Regions from separate parts of the Homo sapiens genome. Here region 2 is linked to region 1. A link means that fine-mapping ties the variant in region 1 to the expression of a gene that starts in the linked region. Tissue or cell type: fibroblasts. Region 1 holds a variant in brackets; the other region holds the start of a gene. All regions are shown on one strand. Distances are between the middles of the regions.

Region 1 (8,103 bases):
CTGAACACAGAACACATCGAGGTACCTGGCGGGCGGCGTGCCCAGAGAGGGCAGGGAAGCTCTGCACCCCATCCCCATACCTGGCCCTCTGCATCTCTCCCATCCCTCTGTTCCCGAGTTGTGTCCTTTATAATAAACTGATGAACCTAACTTTTCCTGAGTTCTGTGAGTTGGGTTCTAGCAAATAATCAAACCCACGGAGGGGGTCTAAAGGGAATCTCTGACTTTCAGCCAGTTGCTTATATGTTCTGGAAGCTTGGATTTGAGATTTCATCTGAAGTCAGGGGCAGCCTGTGGGACTGAGCCCTTACCCTGTGGGGTCTTCACTAACTCCAGGTTGATTATGTCAGAATGGAATTGAATAGTGGGACACCCAGCTGGGGTTGGGGCATTGGTCAATGTGCAAAACACCTGCACAGTTGGGGTCACCAGTGTGGGAGTGAGCAGGGGAAATGAATCTTCATTTTCATTGCTCCACACCAGCTCTGCTCCTACAGAACTGCATAGAGTTGGGGTCGCATCTTCTCAGGAAATGTTTCTGAAAAACAGGATTTTCTCAAAGTGGAAGTGCAGACAAGAGAAGGAGCAGGAGCAGAAGAGAAACTTGGATTTGGAACGTGGCCTTTCCCGAGAGGAAGGGTCTGTCTACCACGCACGAGGCATTGGTCATGTGCAAAGGGCCACCAGGGACAGCCAAGGCTCCGCCATTACAATCCTATGGATGGCTTCCTAGTGCCCAGAGGCTCAAGCCTAAACTCCTGACCACTGCAATGCCCTTGGTTATCCCCACCTTCCTTTCCAGGCTTATTTTTTGTCTCTTACATCCCAAACCCTTGCCATGCTGTACTATTTGGGAGGATCAGACAACATTATGCTGTTTCAAGCATGGTTCTCTTTACCTGGGACACATTCAACTTCCACATCCACCTGGTGGACATGAACTTACTCTTTAAGACTTGGGTCAGCTGGCACGGTGGCTCATGCCTGTAATCCCAGTACTTTGAGAGGCCGAGGCAGGCAGATCACCTGAGGTCAGGAGTTCAAGACCAGCTTGGCCAACATGGTAAAAACCCATTTCTACTAAAAATACACAAATTAGCTGGGCATGATGGCATGCACCTGTAATCCCAGCTACTCTGGAGGCTGAGGCAGGAGAGTCACTTGAACCCAGGAGGCGGAGGTTGCAGTGAGCCGAGATCGTGCCACTGCACTCCAGCCTGGGTGACAGAGCAAGACTCCATCTAAAAAAAAAAAACCAAAAAAACAAAAAACAAACAAAAAAAGGTGCAGTCGCTGTGTCTCTCCATGCCTGAGATAAGGCTAACTTTTGGTGCTCCATTATCCTAAACAGATTCTCCCGGGCACCTGGTACAGCAAAGTCTAGGCACAGGGATGGGAGAAGGGAGTCCGAGGACTCCAAAGGATTCTGCCTCCTTGACTGTAAAACAGAGACAGAAACATCTCAGCAGCTGCAGGGAAAACTGTTTAGAAACTTCCTCCTCTGATTATTTATTCTGAGTTTACACTGCATGCTGGGGTGCCCACAGCTCCCCTCGTCCCCAGACTTACTTCCCTAAATACTGAAAACATGTACGAAGTGTTAAACATTTTTCAAGTGCTCTAAGCCATGAATGATAACCATCAACAAACTCTGGTTTAGAATTCACCCTGGTGTCATCTGCATATTTTTTTTCCATATGAAACCAAATTGAGAAAGATTTTTTAAACAATCTGAACTTATATCCTGCTTTAAATTCATGCTGTGGGACTTAAAAAAAACCTGAATTCTTCACCCACCCCTTAGTTGCAAAAACACTATTTATTTTTCCTGCAAATGGACCATCTACTAGGGTAAAACAAATGTATTTCTCTCTTGAGATATGTATACGTAGCGGGTTTTTTTTTTTTTTTTTTCCTGGCCAAACTCCCAAAAGCCAAACATGTCACGGAATGACTGATATTGCCCTTGACTGAAAAAAACCTTTATCTCTCAGCAAGCAGAAATCGGGACATCTGGATTCTAGACCCAATTTGGCCGTGACCTAGGCTGGGTGATTTTGGGGATTCCTCTCATCTCTCTGTTGTTGGTCTCTGTTCTGAAAACTGGTGGGGTGGGGTTGGGCGAGAGAGAGGAATGGGTCTGAAACCCATCCAACCCTAAAATCCTATGACTTCAGATCAAAACATGGGTAAACAATGGCAAGATTTTTGTTCTGAAAAATATTTTAATGTGGACTCAGATGGGTCCTGAGAAGCCTTCTGTGGCATGCCCTCCTCCAGGGAAAACCCCCAACTTCCACGTCCCTAGTGAGGGGTGTCGGTCATGTTTTCTCACCAGTCCCTTTTGCACAGTTACATCCCCATCTGCTGGAACTTCAGGTCTTTGCTGCTAACGGCACGGGCTTCAGAGGTGTTTGGGAAGGTTGAAAGGCCTCGGGGTTAGCAGAGGCCACCCTGGTTAGCGGCTCTTCCCGCACGATGTTGGCTTGTGGAGGAGGGTAGCTCTCCGGTGCTGCAAACGCTTTTTTCCCACCCCGTAGATCCTACGGTGGGGCTTCCCAGGGCGCAGGGAATGACTAAGAAACCCTCAGACATGGGCACCATGTCTGTCAGAATTTCCACACTTTTCTGAAAGCTGAGCCTTGGCTCTCCCCCACAGAGCCCGGGTCTCAGGGATATGGTTAATGCTTCTGGGACTGGAATTCCCTGGAAACATAAGCAGGAGGCTGAATACAGCTTGATGTTGTTGTGGTCAGAGCAAGCTGGTGGGCAGAGGCTGTGGGAAGACACCCCGCAATGGGACAGGCACAGACCTCAGCCCTGAATCGTGACAACTATTCCCCTCCAGCCCCAAGGTCCTTACATCTGCATCTGGAGCTACCAGTGAAAGAGGGGATTACTTGGGGTTTTAAGGAGCCCGGCCCTACTACCCAAGACCAGGGGCCGAAGCCCCCATCCCAGGGTCAGGAAGTCAGCGGCTGGGGATTTTGTTCAGCCTCAGCCCTGGCCTAAGGACGTGAGGAAGTCCGTCCTCCCCTATGGGCCTCTGAAAATGGGGAGATGGAGGCTGGCCTCCCAGTTTCTTTGTTCTACGATTCCTCTGGGTCTCCCAGAGTCCTCCTCATGTTGTGTAGAGCTTCCTGTTCATGGAGCTGTCTCTGCTCAGCCCCTTCACCTCCCAATTTCACTGCCTCTGGAGACTACTGGGGGTGGGGGTCTTGTCAGAGGGCAGGAAAGAAAAGTTCAGCGCTTTGTGCAAGCTTAGGCTCTGGGTTCTGTCTGAGTTCTGGGCTGCAATGAGGGTGTAGCTCTTCGAGGCAGGAAAGAAAGCCTCAGTCCCTGAGGGGAGGCTGTCCAGAGCTGATGTCACCTCTTGCTGTACAGTCAAGAGGCTCCAGGGCCAAGTGGAGGGGGTGGCCTCCCCCCACGCCTCCCCACCCATCCCCAGGGAGCCCCGCACCCCTGTGGCTCTGGCTCTCACCTCCCTGCACCGTAGCTCTGGCCTCAGGGCCCAACCCCAGTACAGAGCCCACCAGCCTGGCCCACAGGAGCAAGGTGAATAGAGACCACGCATCCTCCACAGCATGGGGAACGCCCTGCTGGCTCGACCTCCTCACTTGCTCTCTCAAGTCTGCTGAAAGAAGAGCCACCAGAGAATTCCCAACAAGAGCCCCTCTGGCATGCGGGCAGTGTTTCTGATCTCAAAGCCATCTTTCCACATAGTTCCTCCCTTCCTGCCCACCCCCATCAGGAGTTGTTTATTTCTCAGAACTAAATGCCACGATCCTTCTCAGCTACCTTGGCAGCATTCTGTCAGAAACCAGTCAACAAACAGAGCAGGGAAAAACAGCACCCCGAAGACAGCATTCAGGACCCAGCCCTTTAGACAAAAGGGATCAGATCAGGTCTACTAGATGGCC[T/C]CATTCAGTCAGACACACCCAGTTAAGCAGCCCTGGAAAGGGACTCTAGAGAATGCTAGAAGTACTGTGAAGCTCGCAGATGGCCTTGTGGACTTTAGCACTTCAGGTGAGGTGAGTGTGGGGGGTCCAGGATCAGCCTGGGCATTTCCTTGTTTTTCTACGGGCAAGTCCATCACTTTCAAGGACAAGGTGCTGTCACCTGCCTTGCTCCTATTTGATCCTGAATCATGCCTCAGGGAGGGGAGGGCAGGGCAGAGAGAAAGCAGGGGCAAGTTTAAGTGTCAGGGGGCCTTGGGGAGGCCTCTTTTTGGGAGTGAGGTCTCCTTCTGGTCCTGCACAGCTGGGACTAAAGTGTGATGTGAAGGGCCTACTGCACCATACCATCCTGAGTGTGCTTGATCTCATCTGAAGGACCTAGTGAGACCAAGGAAGCATGAAAATAGCAGACCATTCAGCTGTAGTTTACATCTCAGCTGATATGAGCAACTGAAGAGAAGGCAGTTGAAGTGTCTGATGTGTACTGCATGGCCAAGAGTAATCGTGTAATGATCTGGAGGATTAGGCAGGCACCAAGAAGTGAGCCAAAGTTTCATCATATAGAAATGTTAGATGGTGTGGGAAGATCAATGAATGAGTAATTAATAATTTTTATTAGCGGGTGTGTTTTGCAGGTCTTGGCCATTAGTGTTCTTCTAGTTGAAGCACAACAATAATTTTTCATGTCATTAGTCATGGTTATCGCCCATGTGGGAATAATGGCATATGCTCTATTTGTTTTAAGTGTCCTTTTGGTTGTAGGATTTGTAGGTTTCTCTTCGAAACCTTCTCCTATTTATGGAGGCCTATGGCTAATTATTAGTGGTGCTGTAGGTTGTGGTATTGCGTTGAATTTTGGTGGGGCTGATAGTCTTTGATTTATTTGGGTGTCATGAGACCCCTTTCTGTGTCCAGCTTGTGACTCTGCAGTGGCCCCTGTCCCTGAGTGTCCGGGGGGAAGCTATTAACACAGGGACTCTTTCCCCAGGCCCCATCCTCCCAGAGCCAAGACCGGAGCCTAGATGCCAGAGGCAGTGATATTCTGCTTGCGCCCTCACGTGGGACAGAGCCAACTAACACCACATGCTGGGTTTGGTGTTTTTTCTTTTGCTCCTTTTTAAACTTGGCTAGGAGACTCTGTTCATTCTTCTCTGGCAAGTCTCCAAGATTCTACATGTAGCCCTCTCTAGGGGAAAAGTAAACCTTAGAAGAGTGGCACAACTAAATAAGCTGATCCCCTTGTCAACATTCTAGCAAGGACCGCATCAGAAAGATGCCCATTACTAACAGGGTGGTCTGCCGGATCGCAAGCTCTCCAGCGTCACTCCTCCATCAGTGGCAAATGGGGAAAACAAAGGCGATGCCACTTTGTCTCTGCACCTTTCCCTGTGTAACACCCAGGGAGGGGAGGCCTTTAACAAGGTCAGTAGCTGAATTTGTGCAAGCACCTCTGATGATTTTAGGAAGCGTGTCTGAGTGGGTGTATTACACAGAATAATAATCACAAACAGGTACTGAGTCCTCACCAGGTGTCCAGCATGATCATAAGCACTTTACACAGATTAACTCATTCAATTTTCACAATGACCTTATAAGGTAAAGACTCCTGTTATCCCTATTTTATAGATGAGAACACTGAGGCACAGAGATTATACCAGCTGGGCTAGCGAGTGACCGGGGGAAGCCTCCAGATCCATGCACACAACCGCCAGGTTTATGACACCTCTAGAAATGTGGCCAGTGCCCCTGGGGTCTATCAGCATCTCTTGCTAGACCAGCAGAGCCCTAAAAAAGGTAGGGAGCCTCCTTTGACACTTGAGCCCCAGCCATGGCTCCAGCCTCTGAACCTCCAAACTTATGGGGCTGCTTGGGGGACAGCTAGCCCTGTGCCAACACCATATCCCACGGCCCCAGCAGAATGTCCTTACTGGCATCCCCAGCTCTGTCTCCTTTCTCTCCTTTCTCTCCTTTTGGGCCTCGGTCACCTAAAACAGAGGAGGAAACTGGCATTAGAAATGGAAAGAAATCCTAATTGTGAATAAAATATTACCTGCAGGAGATTGATGAACTCGAGACCAGAGAAACCCTCAGGCAGGAGCCAGCAGCAACTGGAGAGCCCAGCAGGCAGGAGAAGAGGGCAGCCAATTCTGCCATCTGCCCTGGGTACCCCAAGAAGGAGGAGGCATGAGTGAGAAAATCCCACCCGTTTGTAAAGAACCAAAGAGCACATGGAATTTTGCAGGAAGAAGACAAGTCAAAGATAGTCCTATTAAACACTCAAGGTTTTAGAGGTCCACATCCAAGTTTGTTCTAATGAGCCCAGGGGAAAACAAAGGAGAGGGGGCTTTAGTTAAATAGGGGGAGAGGCGGGTTCTATGTTGAGCAGGTTTTCTTGTGGGAGAGACCATAAAACATAAGTGTGAGATACCAGGGAATTGTGGCATTTCCTTCCCAGGATATGGCTAAAGAAGACCTGTTTGGCCAGCTGGCATCTCCCTCTACAAAGAAGTAGAAAATCCTGGCACCACTCACTGGACATTAAAATGACAAGGGACTTCTATTCCAAGGACCCCCAGAAAGACATCTGCCAATCAAAAGCCCATGGGCATGCTGTCTGGTGAAAAAATCAAGCCAGCAAATTCCAGGGGAGAATGCCCAGGATGATCCAAGATTTGGGGGGGGGAAAAAAAAAAGGCAGCCATATACATATATAGGAATATGCTCAGAAAAAGATCTGGCAGGGTGTGCTCCAAAGCATTGACAGTAGTTATTCTAAAGAATAAGAGCTGGGGGAACTGAGGGGTGGAGACTTTTTGCTTTATGCACTTCTGTGTTGTCTAATTTTCTTTTCTTTTCTTTTTTTTTTTTTTTTTGAGACAGGGTCTCACTCTGTCACCCAGGCCCAGGCGGGAGTGCAGTGGTGCAATCTTAGCTCACTGCAACTTCCACTCCCCGGGTTCAAGTGATTCTCCTGCCTCAGCTTCCCAAGTAGCTGGGATCACAGGTGTGCCCCAACATGCCTGGCTAAGTTTTGTATTTTTGGTAGAGATGGGGTTTTGCCATATTGGCCAGGCTGGTCTTGAACTCCTGGCCTCAAGTGATCTGCCTGCCTTGGCCTCCCAAAGCGCTAGGATTACAGGCATGAGCCACCTTGCCCAGTCTCTAATTTTATTTTCAACAAGCATGTGCTGCTTTTACAATCTGTTTTAAAATCAACTTTTTAAAATGGGATCATAAAAGGAAGGAAAACCTCAGCCTGTTTCATCACTGACCAGAAAGTAAAATAAAATTTCTCAGTGATCTAAGATCAAGAGATCACCCTAGACATGGAGTGGGAATGATTAGCAGTACTTTTTTCTTAGTTTTCATTTTAACAAGTGAGGAGTAGAAAGCCTGGGGAAAGAGCATCAGATGTCCTTGTCTTCCGCAGTGATGCTACGAGGCTTAGACAATCTTGAAGCGAGCATGAAAAGACAGACTGACTGTAAAAGTAGGTTCCCCTAACGTAAACAAGGGGACTGCCTACAGGAAGAAGAGCAAATCAGAAGGAACATTTTTGGCACTGTAAATCTGAGAATTGAATTAAAATTGTAAATCCTGGGGGAATAAAAGAGTATATAGAAGGTCAGGAGTCTGGCAGGACTAGGGAGGAGGGCTGTCCTGGGCCTGCAGCCCTGGTGTCTGCCCTGCAGGCCCCTTGTTGGCTTTCTCTGGTTACATCTCTGGGCTGCAACCTACCATAACACTCCCTTGCATTTCTACAGGGACTTTAGCATTTGCACACATACGTGCTTGCTCACTCCTCCTGACAGCCCTGTGAGATATAGTATCATGAGGATTTCTAGATTTTTGTGTGTGTGTTTTATTTTGTTTTAGAGATGAGCTCTTGCTCTGTCACCCAGGGTGGTGGCACAATCATAGCTCACTATAGCCTCCAACTCCTGGACTCAGGAGATCCTTCCCACTCATCCTCCCAAGTAGCTGGGACTACAGATAAGTGCCACCACACTTGGCTAATTATTTTATATTTTGTAGAGATGGGGCTCTTGGGCTCAAGCAATCCACCTGCCTGGTCCTCTCAAAATGCTGGAACTACAGACATGAGTCACCACACCTGGCTGAGGGTTTCTAGTTTTTGGAGGAAAAA
Region 2 (8,103 bases), 410 kb before region 1:
AAACTCATAGCACAGAACTGGACTTGTGAAGACACCACTGCTGCAGTTGGGCGCTGAGGGCCTCGGGGCCTGCACCGTCCCTGCCAGCCAGGGACCCTGGCCGCTGCTGCTGCTGCCCTTGAAACTGCCGACCGACACCCTTCTCCTCTGGCCTGTTTCCTTCACCTGCTCCCACTGTAAGGGCTGGGTTGGTGCACCTGAGTTGCTGAATGGAGCTCACAGGCCTTCACTCTCACTTCCAGGCAGGCTGGGGAGTGGGCACAGGGCATTTCCAAATTCTGCAGTCAATGCGGTTCTTCCTTCTATCAACATTCATAAGGCCGGTATGCGTTATAGGGTTTTTATTACAAACTACAGAGCTTCCTCTCGGTCATATAAGCAGAAAGGTTCTTATTATAGGACATTAACACACAGAATCTCAGGGAGGACAAGAGATGCAGCTTTGGAAACTATATAGCCAAGAACAGCACAGTGACCGCAGGCCACCCCTTGGTGCAATTTTAACAAAGCCACCACTCTGCCCCAGCGTGGGCACCAAGTACACTCAGGACCAGACCAGAGAAGCTCCATCACAGCCTCCCCAGAAAAACTAGATGCTGCTGCTTCTGCCTTCGCTGAAAGAAAGTTCCCGCTCACACAGCTGTGGCTTTGGGCTGCCCATCCCCATTCCCAAATCCCTGGCGAGTATGCCCAATTGGCAGAGCCCGTGCACCTGGCCAGCATTAAGGAAGCCTGGGCAACATGTTGTTTGTGGATTCTACTGTGAGAAGGTAGAACTCAAAACAGTAGTAGTTCTCAAACAGTGAGAACTATCAAAATAGAAGATGTTGAAAGGATGTTGTGTATCTCTGAAGCAGAACTTCATCACTGCCAGATGGAATTTTCTCTTCTTCTCTACTCTACTCTTCTCTTCTCTTCTCTTCTCTTCTCTTCTCTTCTCTTTTCTCTTCTCTTCTCTTCTCTTTTCTTTTCTTTCTTTTGACAGAGTCTTGCTCTGTTGCCCAGGCTGCGAGTGCAGTGGCATGATCTTGGCTTACTGCAACCTCTGCCTCCCGGGTTCAAGCAATTCTCCTGCTTCAGCTTCCCAAGTAGCTGGGATTACAGGTGTGTGCCACCACGCCCAGATAAGTTTCGTATTTTTAATAGAGACGGGGTTTCCCCATGTTGGCCAGGCTGGTCTCCAACTCTTAACCTCAGGTGATCCACCCACCTCAGCCTCCCAAAGTGCTGTGATTACAGGTGTGAGCCACCATGCCCGGCTGGAATTTTCTGTATGTAAGAAAAGGTTATAGATGTTAGGAAGCTGGAAAATGACAAATAAGAAAAACGGCAAGTAGCCACCACCACTATTCCCAATCTCATTCTTCTCACTGCTCCAGAAGCCACCAGCCACTACCATTTGAATTCATTATTCCACTAAAATGGAAGATCCTTGACGGCCCCTATATTTGTCTGATTTATTTAACAATTGATCCCAAGTGCCTAGAACAGTGCCTGGCACATAGAAGATGCTTGATACATATTTGCTGATGGAATGAAAGACGCTCGTTCATTTGCCGCATTGAAAAAAAGACAAAACTTCAAGTGGTTTGTAGGTTTAGAAAACTGCCAGAGGTAGCTTTACTTTGAACTCCATGAGTATCTACAGTAGAGAGAAGCAGCAGTGTAAAGTCCTCCCTCCCAACCCCTAGTGGTTAAACAGATTTTATAAAATAGGGTTTGACAATCAAGGACTAGCAGGAAGTTGCAGAAGGCACAGGAATGGCAGAAAACCCAAAATAAACCTTAATGAGGTCAGTGTACATTCATTATGAATTTAGTGATTGAAATCAGGTGTAATTTATAAATTTTCACTACTACATTAGCCATCTTTTATGATTCATGCTATCACCTAAAACATATTTCATAAATATTAAAATTAGAAGACATAGGGGTTAGGATTTACATTTCAAAAAGCCACCCAGTTCCCATAGCCCTGCTGGGTAAGCCCTTATCTCTCTGTACCTTAGTAGCAGAAAACACAGGAGAAGCACGACCATGAAAAAGGGCAAAGTGCAGTGAAATGCAATTGAGACCTTTAATCTTTGCCTAAGCAATTCAGCCAGAAAGCTCTGTAACTCACAAGGCATTATAAAAATATTCCACACCAGAGCTATTTACAAGTTAACTGCTCCTGAATAAATAAAAGTCCATGTGATAGCTTCATGGCTTTCTCTTAACCAAAGAGGAAAGTAAAACTCATATTTCTATGTTTTTAAATTTTTCTTCTCAAAAGGGGGCTTTATGAAATCTAGTTCTGTAGGTATGTCGTTCCTCTACACTTTACTGCTTGTATAAATATACTTACGTATTCATAAGCAATACTGTGCTAGATGCAGAATTCAGATGCAGGCAACAGAAATCACTGTAGTTATTTTAAATAGAAACAGAAGAAAGGGATTTAAGATGAGAGACTGCAAGCCTACACAATCTTTGAACGGAATGGAGGAGTGAGCTCCAGACTGAGCCTTTAGGAAGGACTCCCAGAAAACACCACCATAGAACTAGAAGCTGCTATCTCTGCCTCAATCAGCAGGCCACCGCTAGAAACACGAACATATGGTTTGGCTGGGAGCCAAGGATCTGGAAGCAACTCCGTGGTCTCGGGACTGAGCCACTGAGTCAATGGGGATGCCAGTTTGTAAGATAGGGAACACACTAGGAGGAACAGGCGTGGGAAGTAGAAATGCAGAGAGAGTTCTGTTTTAGCCATGATAAATTTGAGATGCCTGTTAGACACTCAAGAGAAGATGTTCAGTAAGAAGTTGGATATTGACGTTGAGTAAGATGTTGAGTAAGAAGTTGGCAAGTCTGGAGCCCAAAGGAAACTCTAAGTTGGAGATTTAATTTCTTTCTTTTTTTTTTTTGGAGGTAGAGTCTTGCTGTGTCACCCAGGCTGGATGGAGTGCAGTGGCACAATCATGGCTCACTGCAGCCTCCACTTCCTGGGCTAAAGTGATCGTCCCACCTCAGCCTCCTGAATAGCAGAGACTACTGGCATGCACCACCATGCCTAGCTAATATTTTATTTTTATTTTTTATAGAGAGAATGTCTTGCTTTGTTGCCCAGGCTTGTCTCAAACTCCTGGCCTCAAGCAATTCTCCCACCTCAGCCCCAAAGTGCTGGGATTACAGGTGTGTGCCACCATGCCCAATCTGGAGATTTAACAGGTTTCATACTATATAGGTCAGGCTGCAATTTTCTTTCTATTTTTTAAAATTCAATTATACCTTTGAGATCAACTAACTTCATGAGAAACTAGCTTGCTGTACTCCCTTCTCTGCCTATCTTTCAGTCTTCAAATCCAGAGTAATCCAGTTTCTACCATAAAGGGCCCACAAAAAGTGTTCTGAAACATCCGGTGTCATCCAAGTCCAAAATTGGACAGCTTTTTTTTCAGTTCTTCCTGTAACATTTGGCAGTGTTGGCCACTCTCTGCTTCTTTGGCAAGAATCTCAGAAAACACTAATAACTGCTCCAGGCAGGAGCCTGGAAGAGGTTACCAAGCTAGAGAAGGAAGCAACAGCATAGCTTGCTAAGGGCAAACAGCCCAGAGGAAACCCACGGCTCTGGTCAATCCTGTTGTTGATTGCTAGATCCAGAGACTGTTGTAGACCTCCCAGTTACAGTGAGGTATCTGACAACCCCTCACAAGGTTCTTGAAGCTCCGTGGTGGAGGGTATCTTGGATAAATCCACAGAGACACATTCAAGAGTAAATTCTCCACTGTTGGAGACCTCACTCACTCTGTTTGGTCTCCACCAAAGACACGGTTTTTAATTCATGGAGCTGCACTACAACAGCTCAAGAACTCCCAGCCAAAGTTTTAGTTTTTCTAGGAACATAAACGAGCCAATAGTGTGGAAATCGGTGATTAAAAACAAACCTCGCACATTTTAAGACAGAATTATTACAAGTAGCATGTACAAAAGGAAAATAATAGCCTACATTTAGTTCTTCTAAGCTTCATTCCACAAGAGATTGAAATCGAAGTATTCTGGGCTGGCACACGATAGCTGGAACATCATATTTTATTCTAGAAACACATTTGCCTTGGCAAAGAAGAGCGTGCCTAGAGGAGTGGTCAGGATAGTGAGGGATCTGTGATCCTTCGTTCTGAATCTAGAAAAGTCACTGGATATGCCCCTCCCCCGCCCCCCAACACGGTCTTATGTTCTGAATGTAGAAGTCACTGGATGTGCTGACACACACACACACACACACACACACACACACACACACACACACACACACACACAGAGTCTGTGGCCTCTTTCCCAGGCATTCCAAGTCCAGCAAGTTCGCAGGGAGCTGTCAGTCCGTCCAGGAAGGCCCGGGCCTGGGTTTGCCTCTTCAAGCAGCTACTGCAGGGGCGTGGGGAGGGGGCATAAGAGACTTTGGACTTTCCTTTGAGACAGTAGAAAGCGTTACATCCAGAGGCGAGATTCTAGCCTGGGGTCCCCGCCTTCCCGGCCTCCTCTTCCTCTCCCTCTGACTCCCTTTCCTGTGCCCCTCCCCCTGCCTCTTTCCCGGCCAGAGTCCAGCCTTAACCCGGGCAGAGGGCGGAGTCCCGTTAAGGGGGTGTGGGGAGGAGGCGGGGCCAGGGCAGGGGCGGGGCAGAGCCGGGCCAAGCTGGGCGGGTCATGCGCCCTGGCCTTCGCGCATCTCCCAGGTTAGCTGCGTGTCCGGGTGCTAGGCTGCAGACCCGCCGCCATGACGCTGCGCGCGGCCGTCTTCGACCTTGACGGGGTGCTGGCGCTGCCAGCGGTGTTCGGCGTCCTCGGCCGCACGGAGGAGGCCCTGGCGCTGCCCAGGTAAGGGGGCCCAGCGCCGCCGCCGCAGTGGGTCGGGGCCTCAGGAGGCAGACCGCGCTGGGCTTGCAGCCCAGCTTTCAGATTGCTCCTGTGCCGGAGCCCTGCGAATCATGCGAATCATGAAACTGAAGACCTGGCCCTGAAGTCCCAGTGCATATGAGGAGATCCGTTGTCTTTCTAAATGTTCATAATTAAACGTTGCCAAGGTCTCCAAAATTGCTTTCTGTGAACTTTTCCAAAAGGGAGAGGAGTTACTCATGGAGCTTTGTGCTTCTGCTGCCTCCTGTCTAATGGGGTGGCGCTTAAAGATGCGAGCCGAGATTCAGGAGAGAAGAAAGTTCTCTCCCCAGGTGTGGGTTGCATGCTTACTTGTGTAATAGCAAACTGCAGCAACCGCCCAAAGCCACATCACTGGGAAATGGTAGATGGGGTGTGCAGAGTGAGAGCTCAGGGACTTGGGAAAACACCTGTTCTACTACATGAAAAAACCACCCCACCAGAATCTGAAGCTATTTATACAATATGGTTTCAGCTATGGAAAAAAGGTACATGCAGAAAAGTGCCTGAAAGAAATAGGCCAAAGTACATCAAATGAGATTAGGAATAATGTAATGATTTTCTTTCTCTCTCTCTTTTTTTTGTGTTTTTTTTTTTTGTAGTTTCCAACTTCTAAATTTATAAACAATGTATTATTCCCACATTCAGAAAGGAGAGAAGTATACTTATTTATAAAGTGAAAAAGAAGGCCAGGCATGGAAGCCATTGTTCATATCCTCCTTTTACATATGAGGAAACTGAGGCACAGAAAGAAACCAGCTGTCCAAATCACATAGCTGTTAAAGAGCAGAGCCAGAAATCCAACCCCAGTAGTCCATGTCCGGAGCCTTTGCTTTTAATATAGTAAGGAAGATGAGATGGCAAGTAGCTTGAGGGAAAGGCATGTAATCTCTGTGCTTTGGGAAGCTAAGGTGGGAGGATCACTTGAGGCTGAGAGTTCAAGACCAGCCTGGGTGAAAGAGCAAGACCCTGTCTCTCCAAAAATAAAAATAAAATTAGCTAGACATTAGTGCATGCATGTAGCCCCAGCTACTTGGGAGGCTAAGGCAGAAGGATTGCCTGAGCCCAGGAGTTGGAGGCTATAGTTGTGTCCAGAGTTGGTTCCTGTCGGTGGGTTCGTGGTCTTGCTGACTTCAAGAATGGAGCTGTGGACCTTCGCAGTGAGTGTTACACTCGTAAAGATGGCGCAGACCCAAAGAGTGAGTGATAGCAAGGTTTATCGTGAACAGCGAAAGCACAAAGCTTCCACAGCATGGAAGGGGACCCCAGCAGGTTGCCGCTACTGGCTGGGGTGGCCAGCTTTTATTCCCTTATTGTCCTCTCCCATGTTCCATTTCTGTCCTATCAGAGTGCCCTTTTTTCAATCCTCCCCGTGATTGGCTACTTTTAGAATGCTGCTGATTGTGCGTTTTACAGAGCGCTGATTGGTGCATTTTACAATTCTCTTGTAAGACAGGAAAGTTCCCCAAGTCCCCACTCGACCTAGGAAGTCCAGCTGGCCTCACCTCTCAATCCTCCCTCATAACAGGACACCCCACCTGCTACTGGGAACTGGGTGATGACCACTCTAGCTACTTCCTGCTGGATAGGGGCAAAGAAGGGGCCCTGCCGTTGTAGTGTCCTCCAGAGGGGAACTCTCTAGGCCAGTCAAAGGGCCAGTGGGTCAGTCTAGCAGTCCTCGGTAGAAGTTGTGAGTTAAGCTCATTTGGGGTTCCATTTGTAAGACCATCTGTAGCTTGATGGCCTTGATCCTGGAGGAAACAAATTTGAGGAGGAGGTTAAAAATACAGGGACTGAAGGTGAGTAATAGCAAGATGGCTGTCACGGGACCTAGAAAGGGGAGAAGCCAAGTCACCCAACTCCAGAGGTTGGTATAAGAATTTGAAAGGTGTTGTCTGGTTTCAGAAGCCTTTTCCTGTAAATGCCAGGCAGCATCCTGTACTATCCCTGACTGGTTAGTTTAAAAACAACACTCCTCCCCTAAGAAGGTGCAAAGTCCTCCTTTCTCAGCAGTGAGGAGGTCTAGACCTTAGCGGTTTTGGAGAGTCACTGTTGCCAAATAGTCTATTTGGGATTGTAGAGTAAGGATAGATTTATTTATTGCAAACTGTCTGAGAAATCCTTTGAGAGTGTATGGTAGTAGGATAATGAAGTAGTTAAACTGGCTATTCTGGTTCCTGTAGCAGTGGGCATTCCTAGCCCTATAAGTAGGGGTATTAGTTGTATGGTCCTGGGCTGACAGACTTGAGCTTTGAGGGGCACTGATAGGGTCTGATTTCCTGTGGCATTGTTAGTGTTGGGACTTAGGAGAAGGTGCAGGTGCCTGTCCAGCTGGTGGGAGGCAGATATAGGTTGAAGTTCCACATAAGAAGAATATGCCTTGGCTGGGTAGAATAAACTGGTTGTGTATGTTAAAAAGGTGTGTGAGTTTGTTTTCATTTTCCCACACTCCTAGAGTACTTGCCAAGGTAGCTCTGGTGAGCAGCTGGAAAGGGTGTTGGGAGCAGACTGAGTGGCTCCCTGTGCTCTATTTTCCCATTGGAGAAAAAACCGTTTTGTATCTACTAGGAACCATCCAAGAGAGTAATTGAAAGAGGGGATAAGAAGACATACACTAGTGGTGGGGGCGCTGCTGCAGGGGGTCCAGGGGTGAATGGTCATGCAGGGAGTATGTTTGCCATTACAAAACCCAGACTGTTTGTTAAACAGGGAGGAGGTGATGATTTTGGGGGGCCCTGAGAAGCAGACAAGCCATCTGAATGGAGGTGTTTGGGTGACTCAGGAGTTACTATGATCAGTTGGGGCTTGAAGTTATAGGGTGTAATTACACTGATGGGATAGTAGGTGCCCCAGGGGCAGGCCTGATAACAGGTTGTGTTGGATGCATAAAAGGGCTTGGAAAGTTAAGATGGTATTCGGTATTCGTGGTCACAAGGTCTTGTATGGGCTTTTCCTGAGGATTGTGGCCTCCAGGCACAGTGAAGGTGATATTGTATCTCTAGTGCCCTGGAAACTCCCTGAGTTACCATGGCTTTAAAAGCCAGACCATTGTCACTTTGTAAGCTTTGGGGAAGCCCAAATCTAGGAATTACTTCATGAATTAGGACTTTAACCACTTCTTGAGCCTTCTCTGTCTTGCAGGACAAGGCTTCATCCAATTTGCAAAGGTATCAACACAGACCAACAAGTATT

Evidence for each region. PIP is the estimated chance that this variant, and not a neighbour inherited with it, causes the effect.
Region 2: EPHX2 starts here. The variant in region 1 is fine-mapped to the expression of EPHX2 in fibroblasts (GTEx, PIP 0.93).

The regions. Positions count from the first base shown.
Region 1 is chr8:27,898,894-27,906,996 of GRCh38, forward strand. SCARA5 (scavenger receptor class A member 5) reads right to left here. Exons shown (of 9, transcript NM_173833.6): 7 at 5,885-5,941. LOC105379342 (a long non-coding RNA gene) reads left to right here and starts at 3,780. Exons shown (of 2, transcript NR_188147.1): 1 at 3,780-4,031. The variant T/C (reference allele first, on the strand shown) is at 3,921.
Region 2 is chr8:27,486,456-27,494,558 of GRCh38, forward strand. EPHX2 (epoxide hydrolase 2) reads left to right here and starts at 4,688. Exons shown (of 19, transcript NM_001979.6): 1 at 4,688-4,854. The coding sequence starts at 4,754. RefSeq lists a cis regulatory region at 2,431-2,745 and a silencer at 4,492-4,771.